Linked DNA regions of Homo sapiens: region 1 is linked to region 2. The links come from fine-mapping of genetic effects on gene expression. Tissue or cell type: subcutaneous fat. Region 2 holds a variant in brackets; the other region holds the start of a gene. All regions are shown on one strand. Distances are between the middles of the regions.

Region 1 (11,070 bases), 96 kb after region 2:
ATCATAAATCTTTTGTGGCAGATATATGATAAGTAAGTGTATTTCCCTGACCTTTGTGGAAACTTAGCGTATCCTTAGACATCAGTAAATTATCTCTCTCCCAGGACTGAGACCATCTGAGGGTTGAGGGGTGGGTCTTATCCATAGGTAATGGGCTAACGACATCTGCTTTGGAAGAAGAGCTTTGCTGACTACTTTGAGTATTATAGTTTCCAGGGTGTTTTTGCAGAAAGCTAAGTCATCCTTCTATTTTATTTTATTTTTAAAATTTAAATTTCCTCTAGGTAATGGTGGTTCCACTAATTCTGCTAAAAGTACCTTTAACCCTTAGTGCAGAGGTTGTTGTAATGTGCTTCCTTATGAACAAGCATTAGCTGACATTTACAGATATCCGAGTTTGAGAAATAGGTCCCATGTTGCTTATTCCTTGATAGTGAGACTAGAGCAATAGTATATCCTGTCCTAGGCAGAGTGTCGGGCTCCCCAGGGTGCACACCGAGTAGAATTGTTTTGCCTTATGACATCGTCTTTTGTTTGCTTAGTTGCTCTTATTTCCTCCTCCTTTCCAATAAATTCAGTATCATGTTACAGTATCCTATAACAGTTTTCATGGCTCAAGGTTTTGTTTTTTCCTTCCAACAAAGACTCTTGAAAAATCAAGACAATACGCTCTCGGAAATTATAAGCAAAAAGCATATCAGGTTTAACAGACTATGGGCAATTAACATCAAGGGTATCTACATAGTCTGATATCTATAGATTTCCTTTAAATGATTCATAACAACAAAAATTAACATGTTATAAAATGCATTTACATAAAGTCTTTTAGATGGAGATTGCTTATATACAGTCCACATATTAAAAAATTAAAAAATAAATATTAAAACCTAATGAGTAAAGGCAGAAATTAAAGAGATAGAAATGTAATTTCAGAAGGCTGAATGGCAGGATTTCACAAGCTGGCACCATCATTTGAGTTGTCAATTTAGTAGATCCAGTAAGTTGATATTTTCCACACAGTTAGAACCAGGGCAAGGCTCAGAGCCTCATGCCTGTAATCCTAGCACTTTGGGAGGCCTAGGCAGGACAATCAGTTGAGGCCAGGGGTTCGAGACCAGCCTGGGCAATATGGTGAAATCCTGTATCTACAAAAAATACAAAAATTAGCTGGGTTTGGTGATATGCACCTATAGTCCCAGCTACTCAGGAGGCTGAGGTGGGAGGATTGCAAGAGCCTGGGATGTCGAGGCTGCAGTGAACTATAATCGTGCCACTGCACTCCAGCCTGGGGGACAGAGTGAGACCCTATCTCAAAAAAGAAAAAAAAAATCAGTTCCAACGTGGTTGATTAGCTATTATTCAAACTCACAAGAGACAACATATTCATTTAGTATGGAGCCAGAAAGTTACCCCGTTATCTGCTACCCATACTACTTCCCTTCCCATACCCACACACTGGGGAAGTCAAACTAGTCATCAAAACACAGCTTGGTCAGAACTAATCCAAAGCAAAGGGAATCAGACTGATTTGTACTTGAATTGGTACTCTTGCAACCTTGACAGTGGGGGTTTAATACATCACTGGGGTTCAAGATACTCTGCTACTTACTAGCTATGACCTTGGGCAAGTTACTTACCTGGTAAGTGTCTCAGTTTCCTCATCTAAAAAAATGGGAATAATAGTAGTACCTACTTCATGATGTTGTTTTGAGAATTAAATGAGTTGAGGGAGTGTATAAAGTGCTGTTATCAATACCTAGTACATAGTAAATGCTGTATGTGAGCTCATTTGCATTAGTTGTGGGAGGCATTTCGGGCAAAAATGAAGAAAACTCTCTATGTGCACCTCCCTTTTATGGCCAGATTATTCATATGTGCTGGGTTCCTTGGAAAGATATTTTTCCCTTTTTGTTACAAAGTGGCAAGGTGAAACCAAAACAGAAAGAGGATAAGTATGCTTCAGGGATAGAAGTCTAAATTCAAGAAATCCATATAGAACATCTCTGCTCTCTGACTTCAACATTTAATTAATTTCAATGGATTACATTGCTAATACTTCCTAATTGGGTCAACTGGACTTCACCACTGTTCCCTCATCTCTCCGAAACCTATTTGTGTAAGGAACTGTGCAAGGTGTCTTACAAATGGAGTTGGACAATGGCTTTAGTGAATTCTATAAATTGGATTCTGTACATCTGTAAATTATGCTGACAGGCACTTCTATAACACAATGAGGTCAAAACAGTCTCACCGAAAATGGTCTTTTCATGCTGTATCCAACCCAAAAACGGCGAAAGGATCCTAAAGGTACCATGGCATATGTGCAGAAAAAGTTGATAAATTCAATCCAAGACAATGGTTACCTTTCAGCCAATTTTAAAGGGACTACCTAATACAAATCTTAAAACTTATAGTAATAGTACCTTAATTAAAGATATTTTATGAAGAACCTACTATGCGAAAATATACTGTGTTACACACTGTAAAGTAAAAGAAAATTATTAAGATACAGTTCATGATTTTAGAGAGTTTGCAGTTTAAAAGAGAGACCAAAATATGCATGCAATTGACTAAAGGAAACAAAACAGAGTATAAATGCCATGAGTCAGAGGCAAAGTTTAGACTGAAAGAACATAGCTGGACTGAATTGATATTCTAAAATTCAATTCATTCATTTAATTGCTATTTCTGGAGTATCTACTATGTGCCAAGTCATGAGACATAGCTGTTCCCACAAAGGGGTGCTAATATCTATAAACTCAATTTTTGACTAGTTTCCAGGTTACAGGGTAGAGAGCAGAAATAGCTTCAGCTTTAGAGTTAGAAAAACCTGAACTAAAACCTTGCCCTACCAATGATACATTGGGTGACTTGGGTAAATAATTTGTCATCTCTTAGCTTCATGTCAGATATCAGAGTGTCATCTTTGATTTCCTCCTCTAACTTCATCCTTCATTTAGTTAATCAACATTAGTCCTTTACTATGTCTGGAATCCATCCCATCCCCGTTAACCCTATATCTTAAGTCCTAACAATAACCCCATGATTTGTTACAGATTCTGTAGCCTAACAAGTCACTTCTCATTATCCACAAGATGTAAGTCTATTGTTCTTAACAAGGCATTTAGGACTTTCAATGAGCTGAACTCTGCTTACATTTTTAACCTCACATGAAAATAATACTCCTCCACATATACTTTACATATCTTTAACTACCAGCCTGTTGGGTGTCTCTGTGCCTCTGTACATGCTATCTTTTTTAAAAAAGAAATAGAATCTTGCTTTGTTTAGGCTGGAGTGCAGTGGTGCAATTACTGCAACCTCAAACTCCTGGGCTCAACAGATCCTCCTACCTCAGCCTCATGAGTAGCTGAGACTACTATTTTATTGTTAATAGAGACAAAGTCTCGCTATCCTGCCCGGGCTGGTCTCAAATTACTGGGCTCAAGTGATCCTTCTGTCTTGGTCTACCAAAGTGCTGGGGTTACAGGTGTGAGCCACCAAGCCCAGCATCTGATGCCATTATTTATATATATGCCGATTGCCTCAACAAGACGAAGCAACTGAGGACAAAGACAAAGCCTTTCACCTTTGAATTCCCAGTCTTAACATAATGTCTGTCACTGAGAAGCTATGCAATAAATGTTTATTGTAGTAATGAAGCCATGTTTAGGGATAAATAGAAAGAACCAAGAAGTGCTTTATGAAGGAGGTGATATTTAATGTTGGCCTTGAAAAGCTTTGAAAATACTCCCTGAATTTTAAATGTGCAATTTTGGGATGCTCAGAGTTTTAACATACATAAATGGGTATGCATATCCTCATGTTGCTCTTCTTTCTTTGTCTCTTGCTCTCTTTCTTCCTTTCTTTCTTTTGACTGAGTCTTGTTGTATGGCCCAGCCTAGATGCAGTGGCACACTCATAGTTCACTGCAGCCTCAAACTGCAGCTCAAGGGTCCTGCTGTCTCAGTTTTCCCAGTAGCTGGAACTATAAGTGTGCACCACTATGCCCAGCTAATTAAAAAAAACAATTTGTTTTAGAAATGGGGTCTTTTTATGTTGCCCAGTCTTGAACTGCTGGCCTCAAGTGATCCTTCCACATAATTGGGATTACAGACGTGAGCCTTTGTACTTGGCTTCATTCTCTCTTTAAAACATACACATTTTGCCAGCTGAAGCTTTGTCTCTTCTATTCAAAGCCCTAAGTGCAATAGTCTGAGCATGGTGAAGACTTAATAAGTGTCTTTATTTCATTTAAAGAAGCATCCTCCTGATGCCTCTTAAAAGAGAAAGACTCTTGATTTCAGGAAGCGTACCATCTTGGTACCTTATGTGGTATCAAAAATAGTAGGCTTTTTAGCTGGGTCATAGATGGCCTTCCTTATGGCTCTACGCTATACCTTTTAGCAAATAGAAATGTTGGTATTCACTCTGTGTATTTAATTTCTCCTGGACACATTAAAAAATACATAAGTAAATATACCTTCGAACCAAAATGGAAAGCACGAGGCAACCCTGGACACCTCACTGCTATTTAACTTAACCCTCCCTAGGCAGATCATATGAGTCCGATTGTAAAAGTATTAATGTGGACATCTTTCCACTCTGGATCAAGTCCATTTCAGGTTATCAGGGATGGTTAAGCTCCTAGCTATTCTAGCAGATTTCTTATGTCTTAATGCATGAAATTAATAATAGTTCCTGGGATATTCCACACTTATCTATTACATGTTTCCACATATTTAAAATACAGAAGGAAAACATGAACACCAATAAAGAAACTATGAGTAACAGAAATCCAGAACACAGTGAAGAAAGAAAGAAAAAAATATATACTGCTGCAGTCAGCTTTTAGGAAAACTGTTTCCATCATTCTGAAAATTTATATTTATTAGAAATAAATCTAATTTTGGCAGCACATCATGGTTAGGAGCCAGGGAAATTGTCATTGGGACCTTAGTATTGTATTTCACAAGAAAGAGAGCTCTGTGAGGAAGCCTGGGCTATCTGCAAACCTTCGACTCGGAAATCCCTGCATAATAAGAAAGGTATTGGCTAAATTTGAGCAGCTCACGCAGTATCTAGAGGAAACATTATGAAGTGGGATAGTGTGGTGTCTGAGATGCAGTTATAGGTATACAGACATGACTCAAGGCGTGGATTAGGAAGGCCAACTTTGGAGGGGAGGGCTGGCTCGCTCATTTCTCTTCTCCCTGTCAAATGCTGAAAGGCTGGTTCCAGCCTTTGAGCTCCTGCACTTTGAGAGTTTTCAGCTGGGTTCTCAGGCTGCGTTCACCCGTCGACTTGCTCCAGGCCAAACCAGATTTTGAAAAGGAAGGCAACTTCTTTTTCGCGGCAAACCCTTAAACCCACGCACCTTCTCAAAACTCTGCCCTTCTCAACCCCTGCGCTAGAGTAGGCAGGGCAGAAGGTGCTGAGGAGAGGCTCAGAAGGGGCGGTGGGGACGATCCCCTTTCGAACTGCATTTGTAGCTGCCAAGGAGTAGCCAACAAGCACCAGATTTATGTGCACTTTGAAAGAAGCACCTTCACCATTGGCTTTTTAAGCGGCGCTGTCGCTAGGGAGCGGCTGGTAGGGCGAGCAGCCTCGGGGAGCAGCCCGGGCTGTTTGTTCCGTCACCGGGGAAAGGAGGTACACACAGTCGCGCGCGCACGGACACACACACACACGCACGCACGCACACACACCGGTGGCGAGTTCGAGCCCCGCGGCCCCTGTCCGCCCGCGTGCGCCCCTCGACACAGCTCGCCTCCCGCCCCCTGATTCCTGCTGCTGCCGCCCAGAGGAGAAAGGAACCTCTGCCTCGAATTTCCCCACTGCGCCGGGCGCTGCGGAGAGCGGCGAGGGTGGGCGCGAGGCGGAGAACGCGATGAATGAGTTCTCCCCTCGCCTCGGAGTTGTCTGAGTTGGCGGCGCTGCGCCCAGGCTTCCGGCTCTCAGCGCCCCACGCGCGCGTGGCTCCCCGGGCTGCCACCCACGCCCGCGGCCGGGGCCGAGCCAGCCACGCAGGGCAGCCGAGGCTCCGGAGCTCCTGTCCCGGCCCCAGTCCGGGTAAAAGGAGGGTTGTCCCCAGCGGAGGCGCACAGCCGCGCGTTCTCCCTGCACTCTCTTCGCGGTCCCATCTGTTCCCCATGGCGTCTCATCCGCAAACCCGGATCCAGGCTTACCTGGAGAAGAACAAGATCGGTCCCCTGTTTGAGGTAAGGCGCTGTGGAGGAGGGCAGTCCCGTTGTCTTTAGGGGAAGGGGTGCAGTAATGAAAACAGAACACTCCCAATCCCACCCCTCCCAGGGAAGGAGGGCTAGAGAACCAACGCGCGGGAGAGGGCGCCCTGGGATTCACTGGCATTCGCTCTGTCCCGGCCAGGTGTCCTGGAACGCGGCCGGGCGGGCACTTAGCCAGTTACCTGAACGCGGACAGGTGAGCTCGGGAGGGCCCAGCCTCAGCCTGGCAGGGGAAGTTTTGGCCCTCTGACTGTCCTGCACCTCTCAGCTACATGTTCAGGACCCGGGCAGGCTGAGGCAGGCGACGCATACGGATGCACACACTCAGACTGTGTTGCACACGCACACTTTCTTTTTTGAATTCACGCTATCTTGAGTGTTCGTGTTGGATTTTCTTTTTTCTTTTCTTTTCTTTCCTTCTTTTTTTTTTTTTTTTTTTTTTTTTTTTTAATGAGGGCGGTAATAGAACCCGAAAAGGTGGAGGAGGTGCTTAGCAGTTAATACAATTAACTGGAAGACAGCTGAACTGGTGAGGAGTAGGCTTCAGTCGGTGCGGGCGTGATGAATGAAATTGGCAAACTGAGAGACTGCCATTTGGTCACTGGACGAAAGGAGAGTCCTTTGCACTGCAGACCCCACATGTGTTAGCAGGAGAAAGGGACGGAGAAAGGTTCTGAAAAGCACACACGTATTTGTGGAAGAAGACTATAGCTCTGAGCTGGTTTTGTTTTTTTTTCTCTCTCTCGCCATTAAAGAATTTAAGACAAAAATACAGTAGAAGGAAGAGCGCGAGGACACGAGAAAATGAGAACAAGAGATTGAAGCCTGGCACCAGCAAAGCGTCCCGCGGGTTGCCAGGGTGCTGAGCAGGGGTGGGGCGTGCGGACCGTAGTCAGAAGTGGAGGCCCTTGCGGAGGGACTCCCTTGGTCCCATCCAGTTCAGGGGGCACTGACCGGCGGCGAGAGTTCGCGGGAGGGTCGAGGTGCTCCCGCCTTGCCCCCGCCTTGCCCCCGCCTTGCCCCCGCCCCCCACGTCTCCCAGAAGCAGTTGTAGCTGTTCTTAACAGCTTGGTTTGGGGTGAGGGCTTGGTATGGGGAGGAGGTTACGTGTCAGTGTCTGAGAGAGGCAGAATCGCGGCAAGTGGAAGGGGCTGCACTGGAGATCGCGGAAAACCTAGCAAAGACTGAAGAGAAGCAAGTGAGAACTGTGGAGAACAAAAAAATAATGCGAGTTAATGACCCTGCAAAAAAAGGGCGCGGAGGACAAAGGTGTGGTCCAATAGGTCTTTTGGGAGGACGGGTTTCACATAACAAGATTTGCAAGATCTCCTAAGTTTTTTTGCCCAACTTTAACGTTGATCTGTCTTAGACGATAAGACCATTGTTTCAATTGAAGCTCGCATTGTGGGGTGCAGAGTCCTACAATTGCTTTGATTCTTTTTTCTGCCAAAAATGTTAACAAAGGCAATCCATGCAAGAGCGAAATAAAATTGATGGAACTACCAGATTTCTTTTCTTTGCCTTTAGTTTAATGATTATTGATTATACATAATCCTATATAATTTTTTTAAAGGCAGAAGCCTAAAACCTTCTGCAACGCAGTGTATTAATTGCATCGAAAGAATCATAAAATACATACATTTAGAGTGTGTGTTTTCTCTCTACTCTCCTGGAGTATAAAGTACAATTAGCCTGGGAGAATAAATGAATTGTTTTTAATAAATACTGTTTTAATTTGTTATCTTAAAATCCCCAAGATTTTAATAATAATAAAATTAGGAATATATGTAAACTTTCTGCAGAATTAGAAAATAAACTCAAATGGATATTTATGAAGTGCCCCCTAACCCCCACCTTTTGATGCTCACCAGCAAGTTATGCGCTGAAGAATTTTAAGTGATAGCAACGTGTCTCATAAAAGCTTTAGGTCCCCTCACCAAAAAACAAGCACCACCATGCTTCGTATTTTATTGAATACATATGACATACACTGGCATTAGCTTAGATTGCAGTGATGAGTAGTGCATTTTTTAAGGTTTGATGTCCACTTTAAATAATTGAAGGGAGAAAAATGGATAATAAATTCTCTTTTAATAAAAGCTGGATGTAACACAGTTCCTTATGCAACAATTTTGATCATGATAGAGCTTGACTTTGAGAGTACAATTATACGTATTTCACAAAATTGGAAGATTTTACTAGCGTGTAGCCTACTTGTTTCATGTTAGAAAACCAGTGCCACCTGTGAAATGGACATTGTTGACCTAGAGACCGTCCATTCTCTTCTAGGACCTTACTCAATAGTTTTCACAGGAATTGATTTGGGTCAGAGGAGGTGCCCAGCAATCTGAACATATTTAGAAGCAGCACAAATGTTTGCTACAATTTTAATTTCTGGGCCACATTTTGAGAAACTGAGCTAAAATCTCCTTTTACCACTCACAAATTGAAATTGGCCGCTTCATGTCTTGTCATCTATGCTTTGTTGTGTTGAGTCAGTGTAGCTGACACAGGCTTCTTTCAGTTTGGAAAATATGCGGTATCTGATAATATGTCCCCCTTGTGGATAGTTTAAGTTAGGAATGTTTTAAGAAAACTTAATTGGTATGAGATACTTTAAAGATAATCTATGAATGTTTTTTAAAACAATAGCAAAAAGTAACCTATTCACTGATATTGAGAATACTTGATCCTCTTTTTTACCTGTAGGGCTTATTTACCTAGTTTGTTCACTTAGTTTATTTCTTACTTAGTTTATTGCTAATATTTTATGATTTGAGATGCTTATTAAAGTGTTACATGCAGTATGGTGTTTCAAAATTTATTTTAAATTGAAATTAATTTTGTTTCCAGCTGACTCAGGTGAATAAATTTGTACTACTTTTAAATTTCATTGAAGATGTTTTGGAGCATTACAAAACTATGCCTAAAAATCATTGCATTAGAATTCTGGACAATGATATTCTGATTAGATAATATGAAGGTGTAAGATGAAAAATACATTTCACAAACTTTCTAATTTTTGTAAGATGTAATGGTTTACATCTTACAAGATAAATATTTGTAATATATATAAATATTATATATAGTGGAATATATATATTCCATGTATGTTTGTGTACACACACATTTTATATAAAGAAATAGAAACTTTTGAGTTTCTCCCATTATTGATTGGAAGAGTGCTCAGGGCAGTTATATATCTTGGTTCAGGCCTGATCACACTCACAAGAGTGTGAAATCTTAAGTTACTAAGAAGCCAAATAGTGGGGATCTTCATAAAATCACCATGGAATTTTTAAATTTGTGTACTGAAGATGTGGCAAACAAAAGTCACTACATTTCTCTAAGTATGGTATGACCCACTCCAAATAGAATGGAATCACTATCACCTTCTCTGTTCCACTCAAAGTGCTTCTACTCACATGGTGTAAATTTGCATTAACTGATTTGGCATATATGTTATAAAATGGACTTATCAAACTTATGATCAAAGCCTGCATCACTTATATATTTTGCTGTTGCCCAGCTTGCTCTTCTCTGGTACCCCACGGCACTTCTTCCAGCCATGTATGCAACCCTGAACTCCAATTTGCTGCCAACCCTCAGCAAGCCCATTATTTCACTTTATTGACCTCCCTGATCATATCTAAAAAATGCTCCTTGCGTTTATCAGAGAGCTGTAGTGTCTGCGGAGATCTCCTTTCGTTGTTCCCCCTCTCATAAGGATCACAGCCGTGGGCTACCTGTTATTTAATACATGAAAAGAAATATTTTTGTCTAATTTAGGCAGGCTTATGATTGTTTAGGGCAGTTGTTTGGGGATAAGAAGGATACTAGTTACTCACTTATGGCCAGAGGTAAAATACCCCTCCAGAAAGATATTTTAATGTTTAAAAATAATTTGTCGTTAATAAAGGTAAAAGTGTCATTTTAATAAAAATGATTAGGAAAATGCTTTTATTAGAGAAGTAATAAAATATAAGCTTGGTAGTTATAATATGTTCAACTTAAATATTGTAAATATATTTTTTGGAGTAATGATTGTCAGGTGATCTTCCCCAGTGCTCAAAGTTATGAAGACTTTTCCTATATCAAAATTTGCATTAATCTTTATAATCTCAGAGCATTTAGAGGAGGCAGAAGACAAAGCAGTTCCATTTTATAAAATTTTGCCTAGAGTCCAAGTTAAGTGTTGTCATTGACTTACTTCAAAACAGTTTTTTAAAATGTTACTTTAATTAACATGTTTCTATTACCAGCCCATTTATTTTTCATTTCTGCCTTAATGTATTTTATTTTCATGCAGCTTTTAAATAGCTTAATAAAGTGACCCAAAATTCAATTCAATAAATCACTATATAACCTTAGAAATAGTAATATGTACATATACCAATATGGCATCAATAAATTTGAAAAAAGAAATAATATTTTGGGCAGGCATGGTGGTTCATGCCTGTAGTCCCAGCACATTGGGAGGCTGAGGCAGCTGGATCACTTGAGGTCAGGAGTTTGAGACCAAAGACCAGCCTGGCCAACACAGTGAAACCACATCTCTACTAAAAATTCAAAAATTAACCAGGCATGGTGATGCACACCTGTAATCCCAGCTCCTCGGGAGGCTGAGGCAGGAGAATTGCTTGAACCCAGGAAGTGGAGGTTGCAGTGAGCCAAGATTATGCCATTGCACTCCAGCCTGGGCAACAGAGGGAGACCCCATTACAAAAAAAAGAAAAAAAATAGTATTTTAATATTTGTGGGTCTCTCTTAAGAGAATGTGATCAATGGAAATATGAGACTACAAAAATAACATAGGCTTTCCTCC
Region 2 (11,070 bases):
TTACAAATGTGTTTGAACTCAAATAACCCTGAGTCACTTCCAAGAAGCCTCACAGAAGCTGAATCTGCCCAGTTCCACAATACCCAGAGCTACTATTTCATTAGGTGATCACAGGGAGTAGCCTTTTCTTCAATTTGCAAGGCAGACATTTCAAAGACTCGTCTACCCAGTGCTATTAGTTACATTATGTGGAAACGTGCTGAGCAAGGTAATGGAATGTGATGGCTCAGCCCAGATCTCATGGGGCAGGACATTCGCCACCCATCTTCCCATTCCTGTCCTACGTGACTAAGCCCATTGTGCCTTTTCAATCATTAGGCAGCACTGTCAGGGAAATAAGAGGAAGGAAATTAAGAAGAAAAAGAGCCTCCTTATTCTTTCATTATCCCAGCCCTGGGAATGCAATTTGAAGTAACACCATATTCTTCAGCTGCAAAAGAACCTTTGAAGTACATCGGGTCAATTGAATGTATTCTTTTCTCTGGGAAGGATGAAATAAGCTTCTTCTGATGTGAGATGTCTTTATTTCAGTATTCGCCTCTTGCATGGAGATAACATGTAGTGCATCAACCACCTTCCGGACTTGAAATACGTTTTGCAAACCTCCAAAGTCAATAGCTTCTTCTACGTGTTCTCATACTAGGAAAGCTCATTTTGTTAACCAGGAGTTATAACTCAATATTAAATCTTGCTCATTCTTCTCCTTTGATCTATAATTAGCATGGGATTAAATGTCAAAGGGAGAGGAAATTTATAATTTGCTAAATTGATCAACAACATTGAAGCTGTTTTCAATTTAGTCGGTAAAAGGGATTGAATCACCACAGCTAGTCCTGGGTTGTAGTGCTTTTATGAAAAGATGCCATGTGGAAATCTGCAGCTTATATTTTGACATCATTAGTCCAAGCTCTGCAGTGGGACCAGTGTGGCCATGGGTGCTGTTTAGAGAACAGGCATAGTCCAATCCAGCATTTTAGTTCAGCCAATCAATCTCTCAGGATATGCTGTAAGTAATGCATATGGCCTTGAGATCACTAGGGCTATCAAGCAGCTATTATGTTCCCTTTTACTTTGGTTCTGCTGTTATCATTTAACCACTGAGGAGAATGTGGAGCACCAGAACTTGTGTGACTGTAGTTAAACCCCCTGAGTTTTCCTTGAATGCTGTATAGTCTTGAACAACTAGACCTGGGCTGCAATGGGAAGCATTTCCAGGCATCTCCATGGTTTAAGTGGATCCTTGACCCACTTGGAGAGCCCACAGTCGGGTGAGTGGGCCCTGGGCAGAGCTGGGTAATTTATCCTTAGGAAACTCTAGCCAATTGTGCCTTTGAGATTTAGGTCTCAGGAATCTTGCCATGTCAGCCTATCCACAGCCAACTGCCTGCACTCTGGGGATAGTACAAAATGAAGCACATTTCTAAAACAAGTCAGAAAATCAGTAGACCCCTATGAGATAGGTGCCATCTTGCTACAAAATAATCATGATAGACATGATGGTAATTATCGTAATAATATCATTTCCTGGAATCCAGAGAGTAGGTTTTACCACAAGTGTGGTGAACAGCCTGGGCGGTTGGCACTGGAGAAAAAGCAGCAGGTTTAAAAAATTCAGGATTGCTTCATCCACAGCCATCAAGCTATGCAGAGGGGCACTGGTGTTTTCTAAATCATAGAATCTAATTTTTGGAGTTTGCCAATTCATATGTTATTTTTAGTGAAATAGACAATCCGATCATGACTCACGAAACAAGAAATTATCATCAATGTATTTGTTCTACCAATAAAGACACCTCATGTAATGGTAATACACTAAGTCACTGTCAAACTTTACCATGCCTTTTCTAGGCTGTACAAGCTGTGCGAGCCACCTCCCCCAGCTGGAGAAGAATGAAAAGAACTCCCAAGAAACCAGGCAGGCAGAAGCTCCTGAATGCTGGACTAGACAAACTACATGCTGGCTAAACATTCTCCACTGAAGATACATCAATGCTTTTTTTTTTTTTTTTTTCTGTAAATCTTTCTTCCCATTGCAAACAAGTAGTGATCAGTTTATACTTTGATATTTATGCTGGAAATGGATAGAAGTTCAATCAGACAGTTCAGCTTCACGAACTGATGTCTCTCTGTATTGACATTAAGTATTCACTTTTAGAGTAAAATCCATCCCTGGGACATAAAGAAAAAAATATTAGAGATTTAAAAATTAACCACCATGCCTCCTCTCCCATTCATTAAAATGGTTTTATTATGCTTGTTTTCATCTTTCCCAAGTGGACACATGTAATAATGGAGAGTTCCTCTTGAAGAAGGCCATTATTGAAGAAACCTGGCGACATCTTGCAAATCATCATGAGAAATGTTAAGGACAATATAGACTGTGTGCTATACATTTTCAGTCCCCCATTTGCAAGAGAGAAAGTCATTAATGTGTAAAAGGTGGAAAAGCATGCTTTACTCTTTCTCCTAAGGGCTTATTTCTTATTAGAGGAGAAGAAAGCTGACTAAGGCCTCCAGCAGGACTCACTTTCTTCTAGCTGCCTTTGGGCATCCTTTATTCTTGTGGACAGCTCTAGCAAATCAATGCTATTTTTGGTGTCTGCAATGGGCATGGCTTCCTTGGGCCATGAATACTGGGTGCTGTGCCATAATGGCCCTGGGGATCAGGGAAGTGCCCTGGGGATCAGGGAGGGGAACCAGGATGAAGAAGGGGACTGTAAGCCTATTTTAAAACTAAACCTTTAAGTTAGATACCTAAAACTCTTAATTTTATGAAGGCTCTCATATGAGAGGTCAGACTCTTCAAAGAATACACCATCATGAGAATTTTTCTGTTAAGATATATGTATAAGATATGAAAATAAGGCTTTATTTGTACTTTAAAAGGACCATTAGGGGACTTGTAATTTATGGATGCACAAGGTGTATTCTATCCTTATTCTAAAGTATATGTAATGTTTATCATTTCTACATTGATGCAATAACATTGTTTTTAGCATAGTAAATACAGTAATATTTATTTTAAATCCATAATTTTCAAACAAAACACTCATGATTGTGATAATTATATGGGTTTACACTAATTTAGTATGTGAAATGCTTTTCATATCTAAATTATGTGCAAACTATTATTAATTTTTTTTTTATTTTTTGAAACTGAGTCTCACTCTGTTACCCAGACTGGAGTGCGGTGGTGCAATCTTGGCTCACTGCAACCTCCACCTCCTGGGTTCAAGCCATTCTCTTGCCTCAGCCTCCCAGGAGCTGGGACTACAGGTGTGCACCACCATGCTCAGCTAATTTTTGTATTTTTAGTAGAGACGTGTTTTCACCATGTTGGCCAGGCTGGTCTTGAACTCCTGACATCAAGTGATCCACCCACCTCAGCCTCCCAAAGTGCTAGGATTACAGGCGTGAGCCGCTGCTCCCGGCCCATTATTAAATTTTAATTTATGAAATTTGATCATGGTTTTCAAACTATTATTAAAACCTTTATCATTAACCATTATGTATTGAATAACAAAAATACCATGTTACATGTGTAGGCAATATGTGTATACTACTAGGTAAGGTAATAATAATTGTTATTTGGCACAGAAGCTCTAGAGACTTTTGTGAGAAGTCCATATACAATGAAAAACAAGGAACCTAACATCAGAGTTTTCAAGAAAAAGTTGAACATTTTGAATTTAATAAAGATATCTTTACAAAAATAACCTTCAAGGATTTAACATTTGTAGGACTAATAAAGGAACACAGCTGATTAGCTAGCAAGTCCTTTCATATTGTCATGACTGTTTTCTCATCACCATCCTGGAAGCAGTAATCCTCATTAGAGGCATGCAAGGGTCATTAAAATGATTTCAGTTGTACTTTGCCATATTTCATGGGGCAAATTATCAGCTATATTGTGGTATTTATAAGCTAACATATTTTATATTTTTAAGGATCTACTTTCTTCATAATAGAATGTGCTTCATATTATTTTTAGGGTTAAACATAAGTGTGTCGTCTATCATGCTTGGTACTTACTAAATGCTCAAAAATTAGTAATGGTTTATATTAACATCAGTCACTCTAACTTCTGATCGTAATAAAAATTGTAGCTAACACTTATTAAGGGATTACTACATGCCCAGTAATACCTCCAAATGCTTTGCCTGTATTCTGTTGTTATTGCTTCACTTAATCCTCATAATAATGACGTGACATGGTACTCTTTTTATCGCGCCCATTTTTAGAGTTGAGGAACCAAAGCAAAGAATAACCCAGTGACTTGCACAAAGTCACATGATTGACAAGGGGTAGAACCAAAATTTGAACCCAGGAAGTCTGCCTTCTTAATGCATTATGCTACTTTTCCTTATCAATATAAGAACTATTGTAATATTACGATGATTTGTAAGTAAATTTGGAGTTATGCGGCATGTGTTGTCATTAAATTATACATCTTGTATTAAAAAACGGTGAATGGAAATATGTAAATGCTTTAATTATATGAAAATTATAGTGTTTCCTGGACATTTTACAACTCTGGATGCACATTTTGAGGTAACTCAACAGTGTTGCAATCTGAAAAACTATTTTGTATCATGTTCCTCCTCATCAAAAATAACAGTTTTAGATAGTACATCTCATACAACTTTATTATAATTCCAACACAGTGGTAAGAGTAAAAAACATACCTAATGGATGAATGAATAATGACAATTTTTTCAATGCCATATGTACCTCCATGTGACATTGGGCATTAAATGGCCTTGAGGTTTTAGGATGTGTTTACCTTAATGCTACATGCTCCTCTATAACCAGTGCACCTTCAAATACTGCTAAAACCTGCTAACTTCTTCCAGGTTCTGAGCATGGACAACTCCCACCGCCCCCCAACCTAAAAGGGAAGGTCATGCATAGAAAGTTTGGATTTTAACTTAGAGCCTGACTCAAAAATAATTGTGAACTAAAAATTCATAGTCAATACTTTTTAAGCATTCTATTATCTCCTATAATTTTTTCTAATATTAATTCCAAATATTACAAAATTTAATGTGATATTAAAGTATGAAAAATTTGAGAAGATTAGAATTTTACATGTATTTCCATTCCTATTTAAAGAGAGAAAATGGGGAGATAATTTCTGTGCTAGTTTTACTTATATTGGATATATAATATTGAATTTATAGTATAAGCTTTATTTTATCAGTTCGCAAATCTGAAGTCTCATACTGTTTTCTGTCTCTTTAAAACACATTCTTCTGGTGGCTTGGGTTCATTGTGCATTCATTGGCCACTCTTCTTGCAGCAAATTTTAAATCAATTTAAAATTAGGTAAACTTTTTATGATACTATAATATATATGACGTTGAAATGACATTGGTTCTGAGTCTATTAATTTAAATTTTGGGATCATTACATTCAGAATGAAATGAAATTGACCTTGATACTAACTTTGAGAGCCAAAAAAATGAATGGGTAAACAAAGCCTAAGGGTCATGTTAATTAATTTAACAAAACACACTATTTTCAGTCCTTTGGGCTTGTACATTTTATAGACAAAATTAG[C/T]ATTTATTGATTTGGAAGTGTTCAATTGAGAGTAAATGACTCTGTGTTTTGAAACTAATACCTTTGCATTTAAAATACTGAAGTATTATTTTGTTAGTTGAAGTAGATCTTTTCCTGTGTAGCATGATTTAATGCAGAGCAGTTATTCACTTATACTTCTGAAAAGCCATAATATTGAAATTTAAAATGAATAGTCTTACTTTAAGGTCACTTTTACTTTACATTTTACTTTAAAGGTCGTTTTTAGACTTTATGCACTAGTGGTATTGAAACTAACCTTTAATATTTGACTAAATTGCTTGTGAATTTTTGGAAACTATGTTTAATTTTTAAAGACATTGTTATGTGAATTATCTTACTAAATTATCACTTAAGAACTCTCTCATAGCAGTAATTTCATTAACACATATATATACTAACCAATTTGCTAAATGAATTGTCGGTTGTCCTGCTTAAGTACTAGGGCCAAGCTTTGAAATGACTTAAAGTGATCTGAATTTTGATTGAGAAAAATAATCTGTCTTCTATCGAATGTTTGAACTTTTAGTGATGAGCCTCAGCAAAGTTTCACCCTGCATGAAGCAGAACAGGTGGGGGAAAATTACAAGAGGGGTCTGTACCAAAAATGGCCCCAGGATATTCCATTGAACAAATATTGACCATTATCTTCCTAGGTGCTACAACTCCATACTAGTCATTACAGTTAGTCTTTGGTTTCACAAAAATGTTACTGCTTCAAAGGCTTGGCATTAACAGTGATGTCAGCATTCATACTGCCAACAGTCTGCTGGTCATACATGGAAGACTGTTAAAGTGTGGTCTGTGCATCATTGAGCAATTGTTATGTAGACACAAGGCCTGCTTCACTCAGGATAGCTTGCTCCTCTCGCTGAGAAGAGATACCTGAAGTCTACTAAGTCTACTAAATGAGATATATATGTGTATGTATATGCCTATATATATTATTATATTTACTAGTGTTTGTGATAATGTTATAAAAATTAATAAGATTGTTTTGTTTTGTATGAATGTACGACAAATCGAGTTGTTCAATGTATTGAATGAATGTCTTACTGTAAGCATCAGAGCTGTCCAACCATGTGTAAATGTACCTGGTCTTTTGATCACTGACACTACTTTGCTGTTCAATCTGGAATCAACTGACCTGGCTCTGCCATTGAGAAATAACTAATTTAGAACAAAATTGTTAAATTTTAAAATTGCATTTCTACTAGAAATAGCTTTGGAGAGTTAATTTTAGGTGCGAATAACAGGATAAATGCTATCTGATCAAGCATTCATCCGAAAAATGTTTTTGAGAATTCACTTTGTGCAAGGCACAGCTGTTGGGGCTGGTATATGTGTGGACATGTTTGATTTGAAAACCTTCGTGGTGTCTCTGTGTGTTATTGATCATCTGTGTCTTTTGCTTAAAATGGCATTATTTGTAACACAAACCTAATATCATATATACAAATATACTGTATGTAGCCAAGAACACTAAATTGGTAAGACGCTTTAGAAAATATGCATTTGAATTTGAATATCTAATGCCTCAAGCAAATTTATTAGAGTTTCAGATGAATATATATTTTTGTAACTGGCAAGTAAATGAGTAGAACAGAGCTTTTTGCCTAAAAATATTTTTATAAGTACTCATTTACATAGTATTCATTATTTTAAATGACAAAATATCAAATTGGTTCTATAAATAGTAATTGTTTTGAATATATCCATACTTAACATCATATGAAATCCAAAATTTAATGATAAATTTCATCTGGATGTGTTATTATAAAAGTCATCTTTTTTTCCTTTGTAAAATATCCATGTAACATAGCTTCCATTACTCCATATTTTATGTATGGTTAAAATTATCAAAGTGCATTATGTATTTTATATTGTTTATTTTTGTCTGCATGAAAGATTGGAATAGTAACCGTGTATGATAAATGTTAATAATAATAAAGTGAAATGTAGTATGACCAATTCAGCTTCTTTCCATTTAAACTTAATTCCTATTATGTTCTTACCTATTTGGAGGACAAAAACCGTTAAACACAGATTTTCACCCTTCAAGCATTCACAAGCTCGATAGAAGAAACTTGACACACGTATGAAACAAATTCTACAAATATGAGCTGGAGGGACAGTAACTGCTAGGAAGGAATGAGAGAGAAGCTTAATATGGGCCACAGCATAGGAAAACTTCACGAGAGAAAAGAGACTTACACTGTCCCCTGAATTAACTAGCCAACCTATCAAGGTTTATTTAGTACTTATTATGTATCAGCCACTATCCTAGTTGCTAACGGTATAAAAATGCACATAATTCCCAAACTCTAGGGTCATAGAGGGTGGTATATTTAAGATGATTAATGCAGTACACAATCCAAAATGGCAACTACCAAGACAAAGCAGTGGACACTAATGCAAAATGAGAGAGAAGGCAATGAGAAACATGGACTATAGAATTCAAAAAATTTAGATTGAATCCAACATCTGTTTATGGAACATCTACAGATTACTTGTCATGCACTGAACTAAGATGGATATTTAGTATGTAGGAACACATGTATAGTCATTACCTTTATGAAATTTACAGTCTAAATGAGGAAAACTGATTAAAAAAAAAAAACTACAAAAATGATGAGAGAAGCCTGGGTCAGGAAAGGTCATCAGCATTCAAGATGAGTAAGATTAAGCAACAGAAGAAGGGAACAGCAACCTTGTTAACAAAAACAGGATGAATACATGCACTGAGATGAAAAAGCACCAGATATTTTGGTGGGATGGTGAGTGGCTCAGTCCGGACAGATGATAAACATCAGTGGATGTGCTTAGAAAGAGACATGGATAGAAAATACAGCTGGATCTGGAATGCCAGGCTAAGAAGTCAGGACACTGGACATTATGAGCATTCAAAAAATGAGATAAATAGTTGATAATAATGATAAAAATTATGAAATCCAAGTGGGGAGTTTGAAGAATGTATACGTTGTTGATTGTGCAGGCTACTTCAAAAAAGTCAAATCAAATAATAATTGGAGGAAACCAAAATCAATAACTGGTTTTACTTTTTGGAGATTGCTGGTATACTTCGAGATTGCAGATTTAATACAGTAATATGAGTGAGAAAATAGAATCAGCAGGTGTAGCTTCTTTATTTCAGAACAGCATTCCAGACATTTATGTTCCAGAGTTGTTATTCAGTGAGATACACACACACATACACACACACACACATACCCCATACAAGTATTTTGTGGTGAAAATGAGTTTAAGAAACACAGAATCAAGCAGGTTTCTCTATTATAGGACTTTTCCAACCTGCTAATATACTAATAACCATGGTGACTTTGGAGGACAATGATGGTATGCAATGTTTCCCAAATGCACTAGAATATAGGACATGTTTTATGGAAGATTTGTTATGATTTCCTTGGTATACAAATATTCATCAAAGCACAATATGGGAAAACTATGCTAGAAACTGCATAACATGAAGAAAAAAATGGTAAGCACATTGACAGATGGTGGGGTATTTACCTGATGGAGGTGCCATTTGGGCTTAAAGGAAGAAGTGACAAATACTTGCATAAATGAACAGTAACAGTGAAATAGAATTAAAAGCAGATTGTGATACTGTAAGTTTTATTCTCTCACCATTCATCTAGGTTCAGGGTATTAGAGGCCACAAAAAGCATATTCCATAGAAAAATGGAAATGTTTCCTCTCCTTTTTAATCACTTCAGCCTTCTAATATGATGACATATTGGATTAGAAGACACTTTATTGTGTCAAAACTTGGCTCCAATTTACCATGATTTCTGGACTAAATTTGTAAGGCTTGATGGCCATGACCAGGGTGTCATGAGTTAGACAACTTGAAGGTAAAAGACTGATTTTTCTTCACAAAAAGTATTAAAAAGATATATGCTAAGTGTGGAGTTTTCTAGCCTGACACTGGTTGGGCATTTTAAGATGATCTGAATGCAGTGGTATAAACAGCTCATTGATTTCTCGAAGCCAGTTGATGATATGGACCTCCAGGTCTGGAAAGGTATTTGTCTCACCTAGGGTCAGCCTCAAGATTCCTTGAGATAGGACATTTCCAGATCGAAATGTGGACCCATTTGCTATTAATCAAAGTGAATATATGGGAGGAAGTTTCAGTACAAGACTCTCTAGATATTCATCAAGTCAGAGGCTTCTTAGACTTGCTGCCCTTGACTCACTATGTTGCTCTCATTCAGAAGAGGCCTGTGAACTCTTTGCCAGAAAGTGATAAAATAAATTATTCCAGAGCTGTGTGCTCCGAGAAAGAAGGCAGTGATCATCACATGATATAAGAGAGTGTTCTGTTTAGGGCACTTTAATTCAGAGGGATGAAGACAAGTGAGGATATAAATAATGGTCAGAGGATGACTAAGGACATGCAGGAATTGATTGCCAGGAAATGTTAGGTCTGCTAAAAACTGCTGCTGCTCTTAACTGCCCACATGTTGATTCACTTAAAAATGTTTACCCCAGAGATTAGACATTAGGATGTTACCTCACTTTAGCAATGAGGGATCTGGAAGCTGTAAGTGAATACGGAGGAAAAAAATAGGCTGTATGATGATATAAAAAATGGCTGTATTAGTTTGTTTTTACTCTGCTGATAAAGACATATCTGAGACTTGGCAATTTACAAAAGAAAGAGGTTTAATGAAAGGACTTACACTTCCACGTGGTTGGGGAGGCCTCACAATCATGGTGGAAGGCAAGGAGGAGCAAGTCACATCTTATGTGGATGGTGGCAGGCAAAGAGAGAGCTTGTGCAGGGAAACTCTTCCTTATAAAACCATCACATCTCATGAGACTTACTCACTATCACAAGAACAGCACAGGAAAGACCTGCCCCCATGATTACCTCCCACCAGGTCCCTCCCACAACACGTGGGAATTCAAGATGAGATTTGGATGGGAGCACAGCCAAAGTATATTAGAGGATTTTAGACAAGATCTTTGAAAAACTTTTTTTAAAATAGCTTTAGGGGCTACTGTGCAGTTTTATTACATGCAGTAGTGAAGTAGTGGTGAAGTTGGGGCTTTTAGTGTAACGATCACCTGAATAGTATACCTTGTGCCCATTAAGTAATTTTTCATCCCTCATTTCCCTCCCACCCTCCCACCTTTCTGAGTCTCCAATGTGTATTATTTCCTGAAAAACTTATTTGAATTATATAAAACATCAATTGGAAAGTTAGGATAAGCTTTTCCACTCTTTTAATGAGATGAAATTCATATAACATAAAATTAACCATTTTAAAGTATGCAATTAAGTGGCATTTAATAAAATCACAATGTTGTGTGACTATCATCTTTATCAAGTTCTGAGAAATTTTCATCACCCTCAGTTTTTTTTTTAATGAAACTTTCATTTTGAGACAATTGTAGATTCCCGTTTTTGACAAAGGTACAAAAATAATTCAATGGGGGAAGGATAGAATTTCAATAACTGGTGCT

Direction of the effects. Alleles are on the strand shown, and positions count from the first base shown. SD is a standard deviation of normalised expression in the study named.
For the expression in subcutaneous fat of the gene that starts at base 6,373 in region 1, C is the high allele of the variant in region 2 and T is the other (small effect, 0.35 SD a copy in TwinsUK).

The links. PIP is the estimated chance that this variant, and not a neighbour inherited with it, causes the effect.
Region 1: it holds the start of C8orf34-AS1, and the variant in region 2 is fine-mapped to the expression of C8orf34-AS1 in subcutaneous fat (TwinsUK, PIP 0.95).

What each region holds. Positions count from the first base shown.
Region 1 is chr8:68,325,119-68,336,188 of GRCh38, forward strand. C8orf34-AS1 (C8orf34 antisense RNA 1) reads right to left here and starts at 6,373. Exons shown (of 3, transcript NR_038877.1): 1 at 6,189-6,373. It overlaps C8orf34 (chromosome 8 open reading frame 34), which reads left to right and starts at 5,837. Exons shown (of 14, transcript NM_052958.4): 1 at 5,837-6,221. The coding sequence starts at 5,895.
Region 2 is chr8:68,229,485-68,240,554 of GRCh38, forward strand. PREX2 (phosphatidylinositol-3,4,5-trisphosphate dependent Rac exchange factor 2) reads left to right here. Exons shown (of 40, transcript NM_024870.4): 40 at 1,849-7,548. The coding sequence ends at 1,894. Among named protein-coding and RNA genes, the nearest start is that of C8orf34, 96 kb to the right of the region's middle. RefSeq lists an enhancer at 1-466 and a silencer at 9,917-10,117. The variant C/T (reference allele first, on the strand shown) is at 5,560.